Linked DNA regions of Homo sapiens. Changing the gene in region 3 together with the main gene of any one other region gives a genetic interaction. Each region holds a gene or a part of one and is shown on either strand. Other genes may lie near its edges. The genes, in order: MED1, MBTPS2, MED9, MED24, MED23 and METAP2.

Region 1 (3,500 bases), about 22 Mb from region 3:
GGTACTCTGAGAATGCCCAGAGCTTGAAGAATCTCGAAGAGGGGTGCCAATGGCTGGGCAATCATCACTAGTGCTGGGAAGTTTAGAAGCTTCTTCTGCAATGTCTGAAAGGATGTCAGTTACATCTGGGCCAATGCTGTCTGAACTGGATAGTCGGACCATCCTTTGAATACTGGGTTGGGGGTGAGGTACTGGTTGTGGGTAAGTTGTTGGGGGAGTGCTACACTGGCTTGGAGCTGGAGTGATGTGTGGCGTATCCAGCGTGTCAGCTGTCATGTTGACATCAAAGATAGGGTTCTGTGAGTCAACATCCATTGAAAATAGCTCCCTCTGAAAGTCATCTTCAGTCTGGTGCTTTGGTTTCTCAGGTGGTAATCTTGATGACTTCTTTTTCTTGGTCTTGTTGCTCCCCGAGCATATTTCCATGCGGGGTGAGCCGGAAGAGGAGTTCTGCCTTTCTAAAGGGCTGCTTCCATAAAGGGTTGAGAAATCCTGGGCAGGATTATCTTTAAGAAGGTTCATGAGCATCGGGTGGTTCTTGGTGTTGCCGGCCATCGAAGAGACAGGTGGCGGCGTGTGATGAGGAGGGGTCGGACTCGAGCCAATGGTAGACCCCCCGTTCCCTGTGATTTGCAACAAACTGGTAAGAATTGGGTTCTGAGACACCTTGCTGAAGTCCTCCCCATGGCCCACCGACTCATGCCGATCTTTGATGCTCATGCTCATATTAAACAAGGTGGTAATGGGACCCCCCGGAAAGGTGTTGGTTGGTGTAGTGGTACCACTCATTGGGTTGTTGCCTGTGGTCATGCCATACCCTGGGCTGCTAGCCGGGGGCAGGTTCTTTTTCACCATGTCTTCAACTGTCTCTGCAATGAGGGACAGTGCTGGGGTGTCGGCTTGAATGGTTTCAGCTTTCCTCCGAATAGCCCTCATCGTCACAGGGATGGACATACATCTGCAAAATAAAGAAGAAAACAAAGTTAACATTGCAATAGCTGCTGAATGAGACCTGAGATTTAGATATAACATCAGAGTTTTGCAGTAAGCAGTTTTCAGGTAGGGCAAATAATCTGTAAGACAAAAATAGTTCTATCAAATACCAGAGCTTTGGGTAAATACATTCTAAAAATCTAACCCAACATAAAATTGTCAACCTCTTATGAATCACACAACAAAAGCAAACTATAAACAAGAGTCCAAATAATTGAATTTCAAACTTAACTAAAAGAAAATTGGTAATAATGGAACTCAGTAAGAAAATGCCTCCTTAGGGGCCGGGCACAGTGGCTCACGCCTGTAATCCCAGCACTTTGGGAGGCCAAGGCGGCTGGAACATGAGGTCAGGAGATCGACACCATCCTGGCCAACATGGTGAAACCCCGTCTCTACTAAAAATACAAAAATTAGCTGGGCGTGGTGGCGCGTGCCTGTAATCCCAGCTACTCGGGAGGTTGAGGCAGGAGAATTGCTTGAACAAGGGAGGCGGAGGTTGCATTGCACTGAGATCACACCACTGCACTCCAGCTTGGCAACAGAGTGAGACTCCGTCTCAAAAAAAAAAATGCCTCCTTAGGTCGGGCGCGGTGGCTCACTCCTGCAATCCCAGCACTTTGGAAGGCCGAGGAGGGTGGATCACTTCGGGTCAGGAGTTTGAGACCAGCCTGGCCAGCGGGGTGAAACCCTGTCTCTACTAAAAATACAAAAAATTAGCCAGCCGTGGCGGTGCACAGCTGTAATCCCAGCTACTCAGGAAGGGTAGACAGGAGAATCACTTGAACCCAGGAGGCAGAGATCGCAGCGAGCCAAGATCGTCCCATTGCACGCCAGCCTTGGTGACAGTGCAAGACTTCATTTCAAAGGAAAAAAGAAAATGTCGTCCTCTGGGGGGCTTCATATGGTAATTACAGGGATACATAATTTATTTTAATTAAGGAACCATTAGAAAAATCTCCGCCGGTCAGAGTGGCTCACGCCTGTAATCCCAGCACTTTGGGAGGCCGAGGCGGGTGGATCACAGGGTCAGGAGTTTTGAGACCAGCCTGGCCAACATAGTGAAACCCCATCTCTACTAAAAAAAAGAAAAAATACAAAAAATTAGCTGGGCATGGTGGCAGGTGCCTGTAATCCCAACTACTTGGGAGGCTGAGGCAGAATTGCTTGAACCCGGGAAGCAGAGGTTGCAGTGAGCTGAGATTGTGCCATGGCACTCCAGCCCAGGTGACAGTACAAGACTCCATCTCAAAAAAAAAAAAAAGAAAAGAAAAATCTCTTGACCCATTAAGTACTAAACCTTAATGACTTAGATCATCCCAAACCTACACTATTATAAAAAGTGCTATTTCTGTTATAAATCTTGTTTATTTTAAAGCAAAGCACTTTTTATTTTCCAGATAAATTTATATTCATAAACCTCAGTTTGCAAACGTTTTGCTCTAGAACATATGTCAGCAAATTTTTTTTTCTTTTTTTTTTTTTTTTTGAGACGGAGTTTTGCTCTTGTTGCCCAGGCTGGAGTGCAATGGCGCGATCTTGGCTCACTGCAACCTCCACCTCCCAGGTTCAAGTGATTCTCCTGCCTCAGCCTCTCGAGTAGCTGGGATTACAGCCATGCGCCATCACGCCCAGCTAATTCTGTATTTTTAGTAGAGACAGGGTTTCTCCATGTCAGTCAGGCTGGTCTCGAACTCCTGACCTCAGGCGATCCACCCACCTCCCAAAGTGCTGGGATTATAGGCGTGAGCCACCACACCCAGCCAGCAAATTTTTCTTTTTTTTTTTTTTTTTTTCTTTGAGACAGAGTCTCGCTCTGTTATCCAGGCTGGAGTGCAGTGGCATGATCTTGGCTTACCGCAACTTCCGCCTCCCAGGTTCAAGCAATTCTCTGCCTCAGCCTCCCAAGTAGCTGGGATTACAGAAGCCCGCCACCACGCCCAGCTAATTTTTGTATTTTTAGTAGAGATGGGGTTTCACCATCTTGGCCAGGCTGGTCTTGAACTCCTGACCTCGTGATTTACCCGCCTCAGCCTCCCAAAGTGCTAGGATTACAGGGGTGACCCCCGCACCCGGCCGCAAATTTTTCTTATAAGGCCATATAGTAATCCGTTAGGCTTTGTAGGTCTTGTTTCCTGTTCACCTACTCTGCAATATTAACTAGAAATCTGCCACAGACATGTAAATGAACAGCAGTGTTCCAATAAAATTTATTTACAAAAATAGGCTGCCAGACCCAGCTGTAGAAAAATCTCAAAAAATTACATATTAATGGTTCTGGGATGCATACTGGCTTAACTATCACGTAACAATTAAGTTGGCTTTTTGTTTGTTTTGAGATGGCATCTTGCTCTGTCTACCAGGCTGGAGTGGAGTGGCACAATCTCGGCTCACTGCAGCCTCCGCCTCCCAGGTTCAAGCAATTCTCCCGCCTCAGCCTCCTGAGTAGCTGGGATTATAGGCACCTGCCACCACACCTGGCTAATTTTTATATTTTTATTTATTTA
Region 2 (3,500 bases), on a different chromosome or scaffold from region 3:
ATCCTCGTACTGGACGCTTTCCGTCGGAATGTCCTCCATAGGAAGGGGCTCCACATTGATGTCGTGGAGCTCCACAATATCTGCCGGGATCTCCAGGTCTTGTGTGATGGAGAAATCTTCGTTGGAGGCCATGGCTGAGAGTTAGTTAGGTTAGCGGCAACGGGAAGACCGTGGGAAAAAGAACGCTGAGGGGAGTGAGGTGGGAGCTGCAGAGGAAGGGGCGAGCTGCAGAGGAAGGGGCGAGCTGCAGAGAAAGGCGCGAGCTGCAGAGAAAGGCGCGAGCTGCAGAGAAAGGCGCGAGCTGCAGAGAAAGGCGCGAGCTGCAGAGAAAGGCGCGAGACTGAGGAAAGCACGAGCCGGAAGGCGCAGGTGCTTCTGGGATAGCCAGACGCATGCGCCTAGGCAACTGGCGCGTCTGTCGGCCCCAAAAGCACGTGCACGTGCCCGCGTACGTTTGCCACCCTGCGACCCCGCCCAGCTGTTGTTTTTCCACTTTCGTAAGCAGGCTCTTTACTGATTTTTTATGTATTTCATTTTAGTTGATTTTCATGTCTTCCCCTCCTGTCCATCCCATATAACAGTATCTGCCAAAAAAGCCTACTCCTTTTATGCTTTTTTCTCTTATTTAATTGCACTAATACGACATTTAATATCAGTAATAGTTGATAGTAGAATTTGTCTTGTCCTTTAATAGGAATGCAAAGTGTTGTGCTATTATGATGTATGCAGCTATTCCTACTTTTACTAAGGATTTTTTTTTTTTTTTGAGACGGAGTCTCGCTCCGTCGCCCAGGCTGGAGTGCAGTGGCGCGCGATCTCGGCTCACTGCAACCTCCGCCTCCTGGGTTCGAGTGATTCTCCTGCTTCAGCCTCCAGAGTAGCTGGGCCGGGCACAGCAATCCCACACCTGTAATCCCAGCACTTTGGGAGGCCGAGGCAGGAGGGTCACTTGAGGTCAGGAGTTTGAGACCAGCCTAGCCAACATGGCAAAACCCCTTCTCTACTAAAAATACAAAAATTAGCTGGGCGTGGTGGCTCGTGCCTGTAATCCTAGCTACTCGGGAGGCTGAGGCAGGAGAATCGCTTCAACCTGGGAGGCAGAGGTTGCAGTGAGCCTAGATCATGCCGCTGCACTACAGCCTGGGCAACACAGCGAGACTCCATCTCAAAAGAAAAAGGGCGTTCTTTATCAACTTTCTTAATTTCTCCCATTGTAATTATTTGCCTATTTAGATTTTTTTGATTGCCTCTTGGGTTAATTTCAGCTATTTTTATTTTCTTATATTTATACAGGGTTTTGAAATTTTTTTTGTGGAGATGAGCAAACAACACTTATAATTGTTTTTATTTTCTCTGTTATCAATTGTCATTCCCCAATCTGATTGCTAATTGTCTTTAGATGCTTTTTCTCATTGTTCGACCTTTGATTTTTTTTTAAGAGCTCTTGGATTTAGCAGATCTAGTTTTGTTTTTTCTAATTTATTATTTTCTGCCTATATCCTTACTAATTACGTCATCATTTCTTAATTATTTTACAGTTCTTTTCTCACTTAAGTTTAATACTCAACTAATCTATTTCCATTTGTATTTGCATGACTGCCTAAGGCAGTGCATTTTTCTTTTAGCAAAACTTTAAACATTATCTCAGTAAAATGATTTCATCATCATAATTTTTAGATCTACTGAAATCACAGGTTTGAATTAAATTGATCCAAGGTGTGATTAAGATAAATTTCTAAATTTCAGGTAGTTTTTACTTAGTTTGCTAGTCTTCTCTTGGGAATTTACTGTGACTTTAAGTCCCATGGGCACTTGAAAAAATATTGTCTTCTGTGTTCACGGTATAGAGTTTGACATACCTATTTTTACCTTAGCCTAACTTTTTTATACTTATCTGCCATGTATTAAAGCGTGAGTCTTTTTATTACCTGTTTCTTCTTATACTTTTCCCATTTTTGTTTTGCTTTGATGGTTTGTTACTTGATACAGTAAGATTCACAACTGTTATATTTTCATTGTGGCTTATATTCCTTATTATTGTTAAATGGCCCCCAATGTCTAATATAATGCTTTTGGTCTTATTTTCTGTTCCCATTTGCATGTTATGTTCTGCTCATCATTTTACTTTCATTATTTTTGAGTAATTATTTACACAGATTTATTTTGTACATCACATATTTGGGACATGTTTTAAATACAAACTAAGGGCATCTTTCTTTCAGTAGGTGAGCTTATTTCATTTATGTTTATTGACAAAATAAATGTGTTTTGGTCTTAAATTCATTACCATGGTTTATCTTTTGATATAGGGTCTGTTTTCTTTGGTCTGTGTTTCATGCTTTCACTGTGATAACTTGAAAAGTTTATGTGTGTTTTTAGATCTTGTAGTATTTACATTTATAATCTTAAGTGATATACTCAAGCCTCTATTTCTTGATTTATCAGGTTCAGGCAGATGTCCTCTCCACTATGAAGTTGAGGAAATTAGTATTTATATTTCCCGTTTTTGTTTTTCCCACCTTCAGGTTTTTTTTGTTGTTGTTGTCGTTGTTAGTTTGAGAATTCTAACTCCACACTTGCTTAGCCTCAGTTATTCCATTAAAAGTGATGCAGGGTTGTGATGGATTTGTCGTATGTCAGTTTCACTCAGCTGGAACTGTGGTTCCATCTCCAAGGGATTCTGTTTCTCTGATTGAACTCTGACAGTGCTAGAGTTCACTACTCATCCTTTCATAACCCTTTTTTTCCATTCCTGGATACTTTTGATTTATCTCTTAGTCAATTCTTCATATTCTCCCTTGATTTGATGCAAATTTCATTCTATTTCAGCTGAGTTGACATTCTTCATAGTTTGTGATTTCATGTTGTGGACAAAACAAAGTTTTCCTCTGTTTTTAAATTTTTTAAAATTATGTTGTTTTTAGTTGGTTTTAAGGAAGCAACTGGAATGTAAATTATTTTACTCCTCTACTTTTGAAGGGGTCTTATAAACTGAAGTTATTAACCAAAAGATAAGATATTGTCATTTGTGATATATTTTCCAAAAAGCACTAACCATAGAAAATCAAAACCAAAACCACAGATGAATATTAAAACAAAATTAAGTCTGTTACCTGCACAAAATATCCTTAGCTGCTGGACTGGCGATATAAGTTGCAAATGAGTGGTGAACAGATCAACAAATGCTCCAGGATAAATAATGAAGAGAAAAATCCCAAAGCCATTAAATCGAACTTGTTCCCTAAGAAATCACATAAGAAAAAGGAGTTTACTAATACTATTATATTTATCAAATTAATAGTGTACATAATCTTAAAACTTTTCACTGTAATTTGAATTCTTGCTTAAAAAACAGAAAGTCTCTCTGAACAGCCAAAAAAATTATATCTATACTATATATAATCTTAATTTTATAATAATGTACAGATTTGGTTATCTGTGAAATTGAATTTTGCAAAATAGGGCATACTGAAATAGACATAACTTCAAAATTTTTAGAA
Region 3 (3,361 bases):
ACTCTGTATCTAGCTCAAGGTTTGTAAACACACCAATCAGCACCCTGTGTTTAGCTCAAGGTTTGTGAATGCACCAATCGACACTCTGTATCTAGCTGCTCTGGTGGGGCCTTGGAGAACCTGTGTGTCCAAACTGTATCTAACTAATCTGATGGGGACGGGGAGAACCTTTGTATCTAGCTCAGGGATTGTAAATGCACCAATCAGCGCCGTGACAAAACAGGCCACTCGGCTCTACCAATCAGCAGGATGTGGGTGGGGCCAGATAAGAGAATAAAAGCAGGCTGCCGGAGCCAGCAGTGGCAACCCGCTTGGGTCCCCTTCCATGCTGTGGAAGCTTTGTTCTTTCACTCTTTGCAATAAATCTTGCCACTGCTCACTCTTTGGGTCCACGCTGCTTTTATGAGCTGTAACACTCACCGCGAAGATCTGCAGCTTCACTCCTGAGCCCAGCGAGACCACGAGCCCACCGGGAGGAACGAACAACTCCAGACATGCTGCCTTAAGAGCTGTAACGCACACCGCGAAGGTCTGCAGCTTCCCTCCTGAGCCAGCGAGACCACGAACCCACCAGAAGGAAGAAACTCCGAACACATCTGAACATCAGAAGGGACAGACTTCAGACGCGCCACCTTAAGAGCTGTAACACTCACTGTGAGGGTCCGTGGCCTCATTCTTGAAGTCAGTGAGACCAAGAACCCACCAATTCCGGACACACAAGTACATAAGGGTATAAGTACAAGATGTTCACTGTCATTCTAGTACAGTACAACCACCCATGAATAGCCAGGGTAATTTCGCTGTCTAATTGTATATGTGTTAACATGGAAGGACATCTGAGGTGCCTTGTTAAGTAGAAAAAGCAAGAATGAGAACTATGGATGGTCACATTTCTGTCAGAACAAATAAGAAAAGTTTGTGTGTTTTGTATGCTGTTGTACATTTCAAAGCCATCTGAAACAGTGGACACCACATGTTAGCAGAGGTTATCTCTGGAACAAGGGGTTAATGAGATTTCCCTTTTCTAAGCCTTGGTTGTCTCATTTTTGAATTTTTTCCCTCAAGTACCTATTACTGTCATTTTTTAAAAAAGTGATCTTAGAAAAATGAAAGCCACTGGAGTTAGTACCGTGCGAGGAGAGCCTGTGGGCAGAGGAATGGACTGGTAAGGGCTGGTCTGAGGGCAAGGCAGCTGGGACAGAGTGGAGTGTGAGGCACAGTGCATGGAAGTTGTGAGGAAGAAGAAATGGGAAACTGAGTCAGATGCCACCAAAAGGTCAAAAGAAATGACTGTCAGATTTGGGAGGAAGTCTGTGTCAGTGGTTCTAGCAGAGTTATTGGCCAGTTTGCATCTGTACTAAAGCATCCATGCTAAAAAGAAGAACAAAGAAAATCAGGGCATGATTCTCAGACACCTGCCTAAAACCCTGTGATGTTTGCCTTTGAGTCTGGTGACACGGATACAACTGTCTGTCAGACGTGGGAAGGATGCTCAGAGGATCACCCCTGGCGGTAGTATTTTTGTCCACTCTTTAAAAAAACCATAGTAGGGGGCTGGGTGCGGTGGCTTACGCCTGTAATCCCAGCACTTTGGGAGGTTGAGGTGGGCGGATCACCTGAGGTCGGGAGTTCGAGACCAGCCTGGCCAACGTGGAGAAACACCATCTCTACTAAAAATACAAAATTAGCCGGGCGTGGTAGCGCATGCCTGTAATCCCAGCTACTCAGGAGGCCGAGGCAGGAGAATCACTTGAACCCGGGAGGCGGAGGTTGCAGTGAGCCAAGATCGCACCATTGCACTCCAGCCTGGGCAACGAGTAAAACTCTGTCTCAAAAAAAAAAAAGAAAAAAAGAAACCACAGTACCACAGTAGTTGGGACCAAAGTGCTCTGACCTTGCCTTGTTTGTACGATGTTCATCCTCCTTGACCTAGTGGCTTTTTTCATTCCTTCTATAGTTGGCCGATGACTAACCTTGAACACAAAGGTAGGCCCACTTAGAGCTTTCTGCTTTTATTCACTCGGTATTTGGTCCTGTCCCTTTTCTTTTGGCTTGAATATTTCACAGTCATCCTGGCTTAGCAGATGCCCACTTCTGAATAGCATGTTCTCTTCACTCCAGGAGTTCCATGCTATTTACCTCCACCAACTAGGGCAGTTGGGCTTGCAGAGGGGCCTCCCTGTGGGCTGCATGGCCCCTTTTGGCTCAGCTGCCCTCCAGGCGGCTTGTCTTACAGCTCCTTTTTTATTATCTGAAGACTGTCTCCTTTCCTGAAAGTTCACCAAAGAACACGCAACCCTTGCTATTTGGGGGTTTTCAGAGATGAGCATCTTAAACATGACCCACTTTCAACTTTCAGAACTAAATTTTCTTTTGGGCCAGGTTATGTTTGCTTCAAGAATGGGATTATCTGTCATCCACATTTCTATTTTAAGTACTTTTTTGTTTGTTTTACCATGTCCTTTGAGACTCATGTGAGTCGGTTTTTTTAAAAACTATATTTTAATTTTAAAACTTCCTTGGGACTTAAATTCGTAACGGTATGTTAACACGCATGCCATCCGAGTAGAAGGATTTCAGAAGTGCAGATGGTTTCTGTCCACATTTGTGGATCAGAGCTGAGACTTCAAAGAATTAAAATAAAAGACGTTCCCTATTTGCTTCCTTCCAAAGGATTTTTAGTTCTCATGAATACCAGTTCATCCTCTCTAGAATCTGCGATAAGGTATACTGTTAATGGTGTCTCTCAGTTGAGGGCATCATTTCCTGGCCTCTCATTTCCTGGAAGAAGTGATTGATTCTCCATACCCTCCCTCTGAGTTTAGAGCTGTTGGTAAATACTGAGCTGGCCATGGTGGCCATCTGATTTGCAAGGTGTGAGACGTAACTGATGGATCGCCAGGAAAGATGGATATTCTGCCTGCGTAAGCAGAGAAATGATGAATAGTAAACATGAATTAGCACCATCTGGGTTGAAATTTCCCACTACGGATGAACATTTATTTGAAAAAATTAATGATCATTGACAGTTTTTCCCTCTTATGCCTCAATGGCTTACTTTCAGAACAGCTTACTGAATTGCCTTTTAGTTTTGGTCTCAACCACTTGTTTTCAAAAGCTCATCCACTTACTAACTTTTAAAAAACGTATAGGAAGCTGAGTGTGGTGGCTCATGCCTGTAATCCCAGCACTTTGGGAGGCCGAGGCAGGTGGATCACCTGAGGTCAGGAGTTCAAGACCAGCCTGGCCAACATGGTGAAACCCTGTCTCTACTAAAAATACAAAAATTATCCGGGCGTGTTGGCATGCGCCTGTAATCCCAGCTACTCAGGAGGCTGAGGCAGGAGAATTGCTTGAACCG
Region 4 (3,500 bases), about 23 Mb from region 3:
CCTCAGCCTCCTGAGTAGCTGGAATTACAGGTGCATACCATCGCGCCTGATTAATTTTTGTATTTTTAGTAGAGATGGGGTTTCACCACGTTGGCCAGGCTGGTCTCAAACTCCTGACCTCGTGATCCACCCGCCTTGGCCTCCCAAATGCTGGGATTACAGGTGTGAGCCACCGCAGCCGGCCTATCATTAGTCTTAAATGCTCTGAAAGCACATTTAAGATTAAAGGAAGATTCAGGATTTTTATTTATTTATTTATTTTTTTTTTGAGACAAGGTCTCACTCTATCGCCCAGGCTGGGGTGCAGTGGCATGATTTCGCCTCACCACAATCTCCGCCTCCTGGGTTCAAGCAATTCTCGTGCCTCAGCCTCCAGAGTAGCTGAGATTACAGGCACACACCACCACGCCCAGCTGATTTTTGTATTTTTAGTAGACATGGGGTTTTGCCATGTTGGGCAGGCTGGTCTTGAACTCCTGGCCTCCAAGTAATCCACCCGCCTCCAGCCTAGGATTTTTACTTTTATCACAAAGATGGGTATGAGTTAAAGAGCAGTGACTAAGAGTGTAAAACTCTGGTCTGAAGACATCTGTGCTTTCTTTTCCTTCCTGTTCCCTGTACCCCCAGGCACGGTCCCAGTCACTTGCAGCCCAAACTTTCGACAGGAGGTTGAAAGGCACGCAGCAGCCCCACCGTAACAAGAGAGAGGTCAAGGGGCTCTTGGGGTAGCACAGGTGCGTTCACACTTACCGCTTAGCCATAAGGTTGTTGACGCTGGCCTCAGACAGAAGCCCCTGCTTGCCACATTCTTGGAGCAGGAAGTTTGTACAGTCACAGCTGTGAGGGAGAAAGATGCTGAGGGAACTGGGCACCTGGATAGGATGGTGAGGGGTGGGAGTGGCAGGTCCCTGAGCAGCATCCTCCCTCTTTCAGGATGAGGAAAATCTGGAGTGCCTGAGGGACGGTAGAGGGGCTCTGGGGACTTGGCAACTGTGGGCTCCTATTTCCTGCCCCTGCCAAGGGGAGTGAACAAGGAGACAGAGTCCCCTGAGGCTTCTCTGGCACAGAGATCAGGGGAAGAGCCCAGAACGCCTTCCAGTAGGGCGGGGGTGACCAGGGGAGCTCATACTTGCAGCGCTGGTCAGCTTTGTCCAACAAGGGGGTGAGCTTCAGCAGGAACTCAAAAGCACAGTTGACATCCTCAGTGAAGTCCTAGAAAGAGGCAGAAGTGTCCATCTGGTTTCCAGGGCCACCAGGCCCTGATCATCTCAGGCAACCTTGTCTGCTGGAGGCATCGGCCTGAGTTGCCTGGCTGCTTTCTGCCTGGAGCCTGGGTGTATGTTGTGGGTGCACGCAGACGCTGAAGCACACACACTGGCTGAAGCACACGTACACGCTGAAGCACACACACGCTGAAACACACACACTGAAGCACGCACACACTGAAGCACACGCACATGCTGAAGCACACGCACATGCTGAAGCATGCACATTGTGAAGCACGTGCACGCTGAGGTGTACACTCACATCCGGCTCTCTTCCAGGCATGAGAACACTGCCCAGCTGGGGCCTGAAGGACCCTCCCCTTTGCCCTTATTTCTGCTCCCATGCCTCCATCTCAATCCCCAACTCACCTTGTCTCCATGAGAGTACTTCTTCAACTTCACCAAAACCTGTGGAATCTAGGGGGTGAGGCAGGGGGAAAAACAGGAAGATCCATTTCTTTTCTCTTTCATCTACCCCTGAAGGCATCCCCCCGAACCCCTGCTCCAGGAAGAGAGACAGGAACACTCCTACCCTGGGAGTGAGAGCACACTTAGTGCTAAATGAGAAAGCCAATAGGTGCCCAGGCCCCTGATGCCCCCAGGCCTAGGCACAGGACACAAGCACCCTGCACCTCCGCTAGCTCAACAGAAAAAGATGCCATAAGCAAAAGTGGATCCCCAGCTTCAAGGAGGACTGGGGCCCCTTTCCCTGGCTCCCTTTACTGCCCTGCACCTATCTGTCTGATGACCAAGCTAAACTGCACCTCTGTGGTAAGAAACAACGGAGTCTGCCAAATGGGCTAAATATAGCCCTGGCACTTTCAGAGAAAATGATCAATGGGAACTTGCACTGGAATACCTGGCAGGCTGGGCCCAGTGCCCGCAGGGAGGAACACAGGGCAAAGGTCCAGGGTGCCACTGGTCTTGCTAAGAACCATTCCTAGACTGGCTCTGCCCCTCCCACGTCCCCAGTACCTTGAGGAAAGTGAAAGCTGTCCACTTGAGCTCCTCCGTACCCTCGGGAGACTCAATGAGCCCCACGAAGCAAGCTTTCCAGATCTCCAGGACAAAAAGTGGGGTGGGGATATGCTGTGGGAAGAGCCAAGGATGAGGCCTAAGAGGGTGCCCATACCCCGTCACCCTTCTGTGGACTCTGAGGATTTGGCTGGGTCAGAGACTGCATGGCAGAGTCACTGCTCAGCTATGTGCTGAGAACCAGGGGAGTAAGGTCCAATGACAGAAGTGTGCACGACTGGCACCCACTTTCCATCATGGAGCAGGAGAAACCCCACTTCTCCCAGGGAGAACCAGAAGAATCCTCCCTCCTGCCCCCAACAGGCTGGCCTGCCTTGGAGAAGGGAGAGCCACTCGGCCCCTCCCACCTGCATGCGCTTCACCATCGTCAGCTGCTCCACCAGGGACTGCGTCTCGCCTGTCAGGTTCATGGTGCCCTCGAGCAGGATCACGGCGTGGACAGTGGGGAAGCCGGTCTTGTGCATCTGCTCCGCATGCACAGACAGCATCGTGGGGATGCTGAGGGGTCACAAACACAGGGGACGGTGTTTGGGGGGCCAAAGGTGAAGGCGGAGAGGATGGCACGGGTGCCACATCTTCCTACCCCAGGGCGTGTCCTCCCTCTCCCTTCTCCACCATCCCCCAGGGAGCCGGTACCTCCTAATGAGGGTGCCACACTGCTCGGCCTGACTCCGGAGCTGCGGGTTGCTGAGATTGGCCAGGATCTCTCCAAGTTTCAAGAGAGAATGCTCGATGGCAGTCCAAGAAGCTGGCAGAGGGAAGGAAGTACAGAAACATGATGGGAAACAGGAGAGAAGGAGCACCTGGCCCTGAACTCCTCGATTTTGGCACTCCCTCCGGCACACGAAACCACACAGGAAGGCTTCCCCTGAGGACAACAGGGAGGGAGGGGCCTGAGGGCAGCATGCACTGTTTCCAGAAGGGGGGTGGGCACCTAGAGCTGGAAACCCCAGAGACCATTCCCAAAAGCCTGATTTCCAGGGGACACAGCCAGCTGACTTCAGAAGGTATGGCATCACACAGGCTCAGGAGAGAGAGGCAGAGGGAGGCCAGAATCCAGTGGCTGGAACAGGGAGGGCGGCCACAAATCACTCGAGGAGTGAGCGGATCCCAAAGTCCAGTCTTGCAGAGGCTGTCACTCTCCTCTGGGGGAACTGGGTCCCTAAATGGCTTTCTCATTCTCAACCACTCCCTCATCTA
Region 5 (3,500 bases), on a different chromosome or scaffold from region 3:
AGATGCTAGTTCCCTTATATTTCAAAAGGACATTTTAAATTTTAATTCATGGTTTTAAATTATGAAAACAATGAAATAGAAATTAAAATAGCTTAAACATTACAAGACCTTAGCATATGGACCACTTAAAAGATCTTTGTACTTTGTAACTAGTATCGCAAGAATTGTTACGTTGGTCTGTTGCACTCCTGTTTAAGTGTGCCAATATTTAAAGCATGTGCAAGGTTATTTACTAACCATGAACAATCCATTCCATTGTTTATTAATCTTTATTTTTAGATATTTTTTACATATAAATGTATTCTTTGCTACAGTTGAAACCCAATAAATCCATTAAATAATATCTCTATATTTTATTTTAATTGACAAGTAGCAATTGTCTGTGTGTGTGTATATATATTATATATACTTATTTTTTTATAATGATAACACTTAAAATCTACTCTCTTAGCAATTTTGAAGTATACACTATATCGTTATTAACCATAGTCACCATAATGTCCAGTAGGTCTCTTGAACTTATTCCTCTTGTCAAAGTGAAATTTTGTCCTTTGACCAACATCTCTCCAGAAAGTAACATCTCTACTTTTTAATGTCTTTTTTGTTGTCATTGTCATTGTAGTGTTTAAAACGCTCACATGGGCCAGATGCAGTGGCGCATGTCTGTAATCCCAGTGCTTTGGGAGGCCAAGGCGGGAGGCTCATTTAAGCCCATTGTTAGAGACCAGCCAGGACATCCTGGGGAGACCCTGTCTTTACAAAAAATTAAAAAGTTAGCCGGGCCTGCTGGCATACACCTATAGTCCCAGCTACTCTGGAGGCTGAGGTGGGAACACCACTGGAGCCCCAGAGGTTGAAGATGTAGTGAGCCATGATTACGCCACTGCACTCCAAGCCTGGGCAACAGAGCAAGACCCTGTCTCAAAAAAAAAAAAAAATAATGATAATAAATAAAATAAAGGGCTTATATGTGGGACTAGTCAAGAATGATGTGGCCTTTTTGTTTTTCTTAGGTTATAGCATATATCTTGGAAAGAAATGCCTGCTTATTACCAGCCTATTTTGCAGTCACTGAGATCAGGAAACTGTATCCTGAAGGCAAACTTCCACACTGGGTAAATTTTATATTTCCTGAATTTTTAATAAAAATTTTCGGCTGGGCTTCGTGGCTCACAGCACTTTGGGAGGCAAAGGTGGGAAGATGATTTGAGGACAAGAGTTCAAGACCCAACCTGGGTAACATAACAAGACTCTGTCTCTGCAAAACATTAAAAAACACACGCACACATATTAGCCAGGCATAGTAGCACATGCCTATAGCCCCAGCTACTCAGGAGCTGAGGTGGGAGGATTACTTGAAACCAGGAGTTTGAGGCTGCAGTGAGCTGTGATCACACCACTGTACTCTAGCTTCGGCAAAAGGACGAGACCCTGTCTCACACACAAAAAAGGGTATTTTATAAAAAACAGTTATATTAATCTTATTTTTGTGTGCTTATTTTTTTAATGATGACTTTTATCCTTAGATAATATGTATATTTTTAATCATGATGTATTTCTTTCATTTCCATTTCCATTGAGAATTTATATGCCATGTAATAAAATATGATCAGCTTCATCAAATAGCTAAGGATATGGTGGTGTGACTTGGTTTAATTAAGGGACAGATGAACTGGCGAGTGATTTTTTAGAAGGAAGCAAAAGGGAGCTAACCTTTAAACAGTTATCATGTGCAATCTTTACATATATTATCTCATTTTATATAAATGTTCATATATTTCAGGGGCAGTCTCAATTTTCCTTTTGTACGTATTTATTTGACTTCCCTCTTTCTTTCTCTCTTTAGTTACTTGGAAACCTAGTATCAGACTTTGTGGATACCTTCAGGCCCACAGCAAGGATAAACTCCATTTGTGGTAGGATTATAATTTTAAATATGCCAAATAGTACCTGATTTTTAGTAATCTAATTATTGAACAAAGCTGAGGGATGTTCTCTTAATATGTGCCTTGGTGGCTTGTCATTTTGGTGACTCTCTAAGAGCTTAATATAATGCCTTTCCCTTGTTTTCACTTACTCTGTGTGCCAAGTACAGGGAGGAAAAAGAAACTCTCTGGAATGGGTTTAAGCTTCATTTAAAACCATTCTAGAAGTGGGTTTCTTGGTGATTAGAAAGACATTTTAATACAGCTAGTAAAGCACCATGGAATTTCTAGGCAGCTGGAAGTCTGAACAGACCTGTCCCTCTGTGGCTACAGAACGTGAAAGTGTCAGGCTCACTCAGCCCATTCTAATTCCCACTTTTGCTTTTCCTTTCGCATTTTCCCATGTTTTGTTAGAGTCTCTGAACTTTCTTTTAAAAATAACCATGTGATTTGGCAATTTTTGCAGTGCCCACATATCCTCTTTAATTATTTCTAGAAATCATGGTGACCTCAACTGTGTGGAAATATAGACCATTGTTTATTCAGTGATCAAATATTGAGTACTTCCTATAAGCCAGGTGCTATTCTAGATACTGAAAATACAAATACAATCTAAATAGACACTAGACAGATAATTATCAGGTTTCTAGCTTTTGTAACTGAGTGGATATTGATATCATGTAGTGAATTATGGAAGCAAAGTAGGTTGGAGAAGGATGATGAATTTGAGACATGTTAAGCTTGAGGTGCTTGTAGGACATCCAAGTGACGATATTTGTTAGGCAGTTGGATGTATGAGCTGATAGTCATATGTGACATCTAAGGCCTCTAGGAATATCGTGCATAAAGTTTAATCATGTTGACACTGGACTAGTGGTCTTAAACTTTTTCCTGTAAAGGGCCATGTAGTAAATATTTTAAGCTTCGTAGGCTACAGAATCTGTTGCAGCTACTCAGCTCTGCCATTGGACTGCAAAAGCAGTGGTGTTCCAATAAAACTTTACAAAAACAGGTGCCAGGCTGGATTTGGCCCATGGATTATAGTTGGCTGATCTCTGCCCTAGACATTTAGACAAAATGCGATATTTTCAACTTTGGAAAGCCTGTGCAAATTGATCTTCAACTATCTGAACTAAAAATAAAATTCCCAACCTTCAGTCTCATTGAAACATTTTTATAAGCCATTTTTAAACCAAACCAATGCCTATTTCAGCATATATGTTCATTAAATATTTGTGAAGTGAATGAAGTACTGCTGTGTTCACATTTACTTAAAAACATTTTTGTAATACATACAGGTCGCTGTAGTCTTCTGCCAGTTGTAAATAATTCGGGTGCCATTTGTAATTCATGGAAACTGGATCCTGCTACTCTTCGTTTTCCTTTGAAAGGCCTTTTGCCATATGATAAGGTATGTTGCTAAATATAATGGCACTTTTAGTCCATCTGACAGTCTTCAACCTAGATTATAAGATATGTGATGCTAAATTGTTGCTTCATAATCTGAAGAAGTAAATATTTAATGAAAGATAGTTTATAGTTTATCATGTTATTCTAGTATCTAAATATACCCTG
Region 6 (3,500 bases), on a different chromosome or scaffold from region 3:
GGAGTGCAGTGGCGTGATCTCGGATCACTGCGACCTCCCGAGCTCAAGCAATTCTCCTGCCTCAGCCTCCCGAGTAGCTGGGATTACAGGCGCCTGCCACCATGCCCAACTAATTTTTTTGTATCTTTAGTAGAAATGGGGTTTTGCCAGGTTGGTCTTGAACTCCTGACCTCAAGTAATCTGCCCACCTCAGCCTCCCAAGGTGCTGGGATTACAGGTTTGAGCTACTGTGTCCGGCCTGTTCCTTTTACTCTCTATACCAAAATTAACTCTTTTCATTCTGAAAGAATCGTATAGGAGTGCACTAAGTTTTATTATAAATTCCTTGACCCTAGCTCCTTCTGGGTGTTTGGGTACAATAAGATTTTTTTAAAGACAGCAACTGCTAATTGATGTTATCAGTAAAACAGTGAAGGAAGAGACAGGTAAGAAAACTTAACTTTTTTCCAGCCTCTTTTGGCGGAGGAAAAATGGGGCTTTCCCATTCTTTTTATTTGTAGCTGCCTACTACTGAGAACATCTGCTCCCCCTCAAGCACCACCAGCCTGGGGTTAGGTCTTTAACCATTAGTTGGGGCTGTAATTATTGTGTTAGGGTAATGTAGAGTAGTTGTTTTCCTTTAGAGTGGTATGTTCTCTGCCTTCAAGAAGCTTATAGTGAACATTTGGTGGAAAAAAGTGCCAAGATTCAAGGGAATTACTAGCTTTTCCTCTTCCTTAAACCTCTGTTCTACATTGGCTTATGCTTTAGATTATGAACTTATTTTGAGCTCTTCACAAGAAAATGTTTTGTAAATTCAAGGCAATATAATAGATTGCTATAGACCCACTGTGTATATGGTATCATAATGCTTCCTGGGCCTGTCAGGCTAGTTAAAAAATATTGGCTGGGTGTGGTGGCTTATGCCTGTAATCCAGACAAGCCTGGGCAACATAGTGAGACCCTATGTCTATACCCGTCCACCTCCCCCCACCCCCCAAAAAAAATCACAGTGCTAATCTTGAAGTGTTATCTTGTTCTGTTACATCTCTACAAAGTTGCCCATCAGGTTGGAAATCTTCAATGTATTAAAGAAGATTTTAGGAATATTTGTAGTTATTTCAGTAATCAGAGTCAGTCAATACTACTTACCTGTTGTTAGGTCTTTGAGGGAATGGAAAGCTAGTGTTTCAAGATCTTTCTCCTAATGGAAAACTAGACCAGGTGTGTTAGCTCTCGCCTGTAATCCCAGCATTTTGGGAGGCTGAGGTGGGTGGATCACCTGAGGTCAGGAGTTCAAAACCAGCCTTACCAACATGGTGAAACCCCATCTCTACTAAAAATACAAAAAATTAGCCAGGTGTGGTGGTGGGTGCCTGTAATCCCAGCTACTCGGGAGGCTGAGGCAGGAAAATTGCTTGAACCCAGGAGGTGGAGGTTGCTGTCAGTGGAGGTTGCGCCATTGCACTTTAGCCTGGGCAACAAAAGTGAAACTCTGTCTCAAAAAATAAGAAAAAATAAAGAAAACTAAGGATGTGGTAGACAGACAAAACCTAGAAGTGAAAAGGTATTTGGGTACCTGTAATAAAATTTATTGAAATTTGGTGGTATAAGTGTGGGCTGAATGCCGAAGGAAGGCTCATTGGAAGGAATAGAACTTGAGTAAAACCAAACAAAGGAACTATTTTGGGTTGGGGTAATGCTGAGAAAACATTTGAAGCATTGTGGTAATACAAGCTTGCCATATGAGGTGATAGATTGAGGGAGCCTTAGAGGATTTTTAAGAAATGTTATGAGCCAAGCACAGTGGCTGGTGCCTGTAATCCCAGCTACTTGGGAGGCTGGGATGGGAGGATCTTTGAGTCCAGGGGGCTTCAGTATGCTACGAAAACACCTGTGACTGGCCACTGCACTCCAACCTGGGTAACATAGTAAGACCCTGTCTCTTAACAAAAAAGGAATGTTATGAAATAATAATTTAGGCTTTACCTGTATACAGGGTTGTTTAGAGGAGAGGAAGTGTGTAGGAAAGGCAAGGAGGAGATCATTTTGGAGGCCTCTTAGAAATAGCCCAGGCATATGGTAATGAAGATGTAAACTGATAGTCATAAATAGGCATGGAGAGGAAGGATCCAGTGAACAGTAGTGTGGAAGCAGAATTCAAAAGACTTGGAGACTTGCATTCTGGGAGCAGGAGTAAGGCATTAGTGGACTCTGGGAGTTTGCACTTGGGTGACAGAATGTTGGTGCTGTTGACTGAAATAGTGAAGTTGGGAAAGAGCCAGTTAGACATTGGGGGAGAGGTTTGCAGGCAAAGAAGAGGGTACTAAGTTTAATTTTAGATGTGCTGAATTGGAAACTGTGGTATTGGTATAAAAAGTTGATCCTGTGGTCATCTGACAGTGTGCTGGAGGTAATTCATTCAATACATTTTGAGTCAGGCTCATTAACATATAATTTCCCTAAAATAATAGTCACCACTCTTTTTTTTTTTTTTTGAGACGGAGTCTCACTCTTGTCCAGGCTGCAGTGCAGTGGCACGATCTCAGCTCACTGCAACCTCTGCCTTCCGGGTTCCAGCGATTCTCCTGCCTCAGCCTCCTGAGTGGCTGGGATTACAGGTGCCCGCCACCACTCCCAGCTAATTTTTGTATTTTTAGTAGAGACAGGGTTTCACCATGTTGGCCAGGCTGGTCTCGAACTCCTGGCCTCAAGTGATCCGCCCGCCTCAGCCTCCCAAAGTGCTGGGATTACAGGCGTGAGCCACCATACCTGGCCCCAATAGTCATCCTTTTTAAGTGTATAGTTTGGTGAGTTTTGACAAAGTATGCAATTGTGTAACTACTACCACGACGGAAGATACAGACTATTTCCATTTAACATTTCCATCTCCAGAAAAAAGTTGTGTCTCTTGTAGTTGGTTCTCTTGCACTATACCTAACCCTTAGCAATCACTGATACGTTTTCTGACCCTAGTTTTGGCCTTTCCTGGAGTATCCTATAAATGGAATTATTCGGTATGTAGTTTTTTGTGTTTGGCTTGTTTTACTTAGCATAATACTTTTGACAGTCATCGAGTTGTGCATTTATCAATAGCACATTCCTTTTTATTGCAAGTAGTATTCCTAATATGTTTTACCCTTTTACATTGAACAATATTTGGGGTGTTTACAGTTTTGGTCTGTTGTGAACGAAGTTACTATGAACATTTGCATATGGGTCTATGTGTAGATATGTTTTCATTTCTCTTGAGTAAATAGGACTGGGTTGCCTGTCATATGGTAAGTATGTGTTTAAACTCCTAAGAAGCTGTCTGGTTTCCAAAGTGGCTATGCTGTTTTGCATTCCTCTTAGCAATGGTTGAGAGTTTCAGGTTGTTCGTATCCTTGTAAGGACTTGGTATTTGTTTTAAAATTTTAGTCTTTGATAATGGGTATGTAGTGCTTTGTCATTGTGGTTTTAATATGCACTTCCCTAATGATATTGAGCATCTTTTCATGTTTTTATTTGCTTTTTCCTTT

Evidence for each region.
Region 1: changes in MED9 (region 3) and MED1 together harm fitness more than expected from each alone (negative genetic interaction), as found in Homo sapiens cells (one large-scale study listed by BioGRID).
Region 2: changes in MED9 (region 3) and MBTPS2 together harm fitness more than expected from each alone (negative genetic interaction), as found in Homo sapiens cells (one large-scale study listed by BioGRID).
Region 4: changes in MED9 (region 3) and MED24 together harm fitness more than expected from each alone (negative genetic interaction), as found in Homo sapiens cells (one large-scale study listed by BioGRID).
Region 5: changes in MED9 (region 3) and MED23 together harm fitness more than expected from each alone (negative genetic interaction), as found in Homo sapiens cells (one large-scale study listed by BioGRID).
Region 6: changes in MED9 (region 3) and METAP2 together harm fitness more than expected from each alone (negative genetic interaction), as found in Homo sapiens cells (one large-scale study listed by BioGRID).

Annotation. Positions count from the first base shown.
Region 1 is NC_000017.11:39,409,764-39,413,263, forward strand, and holds part of MED1 (mediator of RNA polymerase II transcription subunit 1), read right to left. Parts: intron 959-3,500; coding exon 1-958. UniProt on the Homo sapiens protein: Component of the Mediator complex, a coactivator involved in the regulated transcription of nearly all RNA polymerase II-dependent genes.
Region 2 is NC_000023.11:21,853,117-21,856,616, reverse strand, and holds part of MBTPS2 (membrane-bound transcription factor site-2 protease), read right to left. Parts: intron 3,242-3,500; coding exon 3,114-3,241; intron 631-3,113; exon of another isoform or gene 133-630; coding exon of another isoform or gene 1-132. Other genes in the region: transcription factor YY2, read right to left, coding at 1-132. UniProt on the Homo sapiens protein: Zinc metalloprotease that mediates intramembrane proteolysis of proteins such as ATF6, ATF6B, SREBF1/SREBP1 and SREBF2/SREBP2.
Region 3 is NC_000017.11:17,487,000-17,490,360, forward strand, and holds part of MED9 (mediator of RNA polymerase II transcription subunit 9), read left to right. Parts: intron 1-3,361.
Region 4 is NC_000017.11:40,030,409-40,033,908, forward strand, and holds part of MED24 (mediator of RNA polymerase II transcription subunit 24), read right to left. Parts: intron 3,049-3,500; coding exon 2,937-3,048; intron 2,799-2,936; coding exon 2,648-2,798; intron 2,355-2,647; coding exon 2,241-2,354; intron 1,683-2,240; coding exon 1,635-1,682; intron 1,213-1,634; coding exon 1,130-1,212; intron 838-1,129; coding exon 751-837; intron 1-750. UniProt on the Homo sapiens protein: Component of the Mediator complex, a coactivator involved in the regulated transcription of nearly all RNA polymerase II-dependent genes.
Region 5 is NC_000006.12:131,618,243-131,621,742, reverse strand, and holds part of MED23 (mediator of RNA polymerase II transcription subunit 23), read left to right. Parts: intron 1-1,013; coding exon 1,014-1,115; intron 1,116-1,846; coding exon 1,847-1,916; intron 1,917-3,223; coding exon 3,224-3,336; intron 3,337-3,500. UniProt on the Homo sapiens protein: Required for transcriptional activation subsequent to the assembly of the pre-initiation complex. Component of the Mediator complex, a coactivator involved in the regulated transcription of nearly all RNA polymerase II-dependent genes.
Region 6 is NC_000012.12:95,477,152-95,480,651, forward strand, and holds part of METAP2 (methionine aminopeptidase 2), read left to right. Parts: intron 1-3,500. UniProt on the Homo sapiens protein: Cotranslationally removes the N-terminal methionine from nascent proteins. The N-terminal methionine is often cleaved when the second residue in the primary sequence is small and uncharged (Met-Ala-, Cys, Gly, Pro, Ser, Thr, or Val).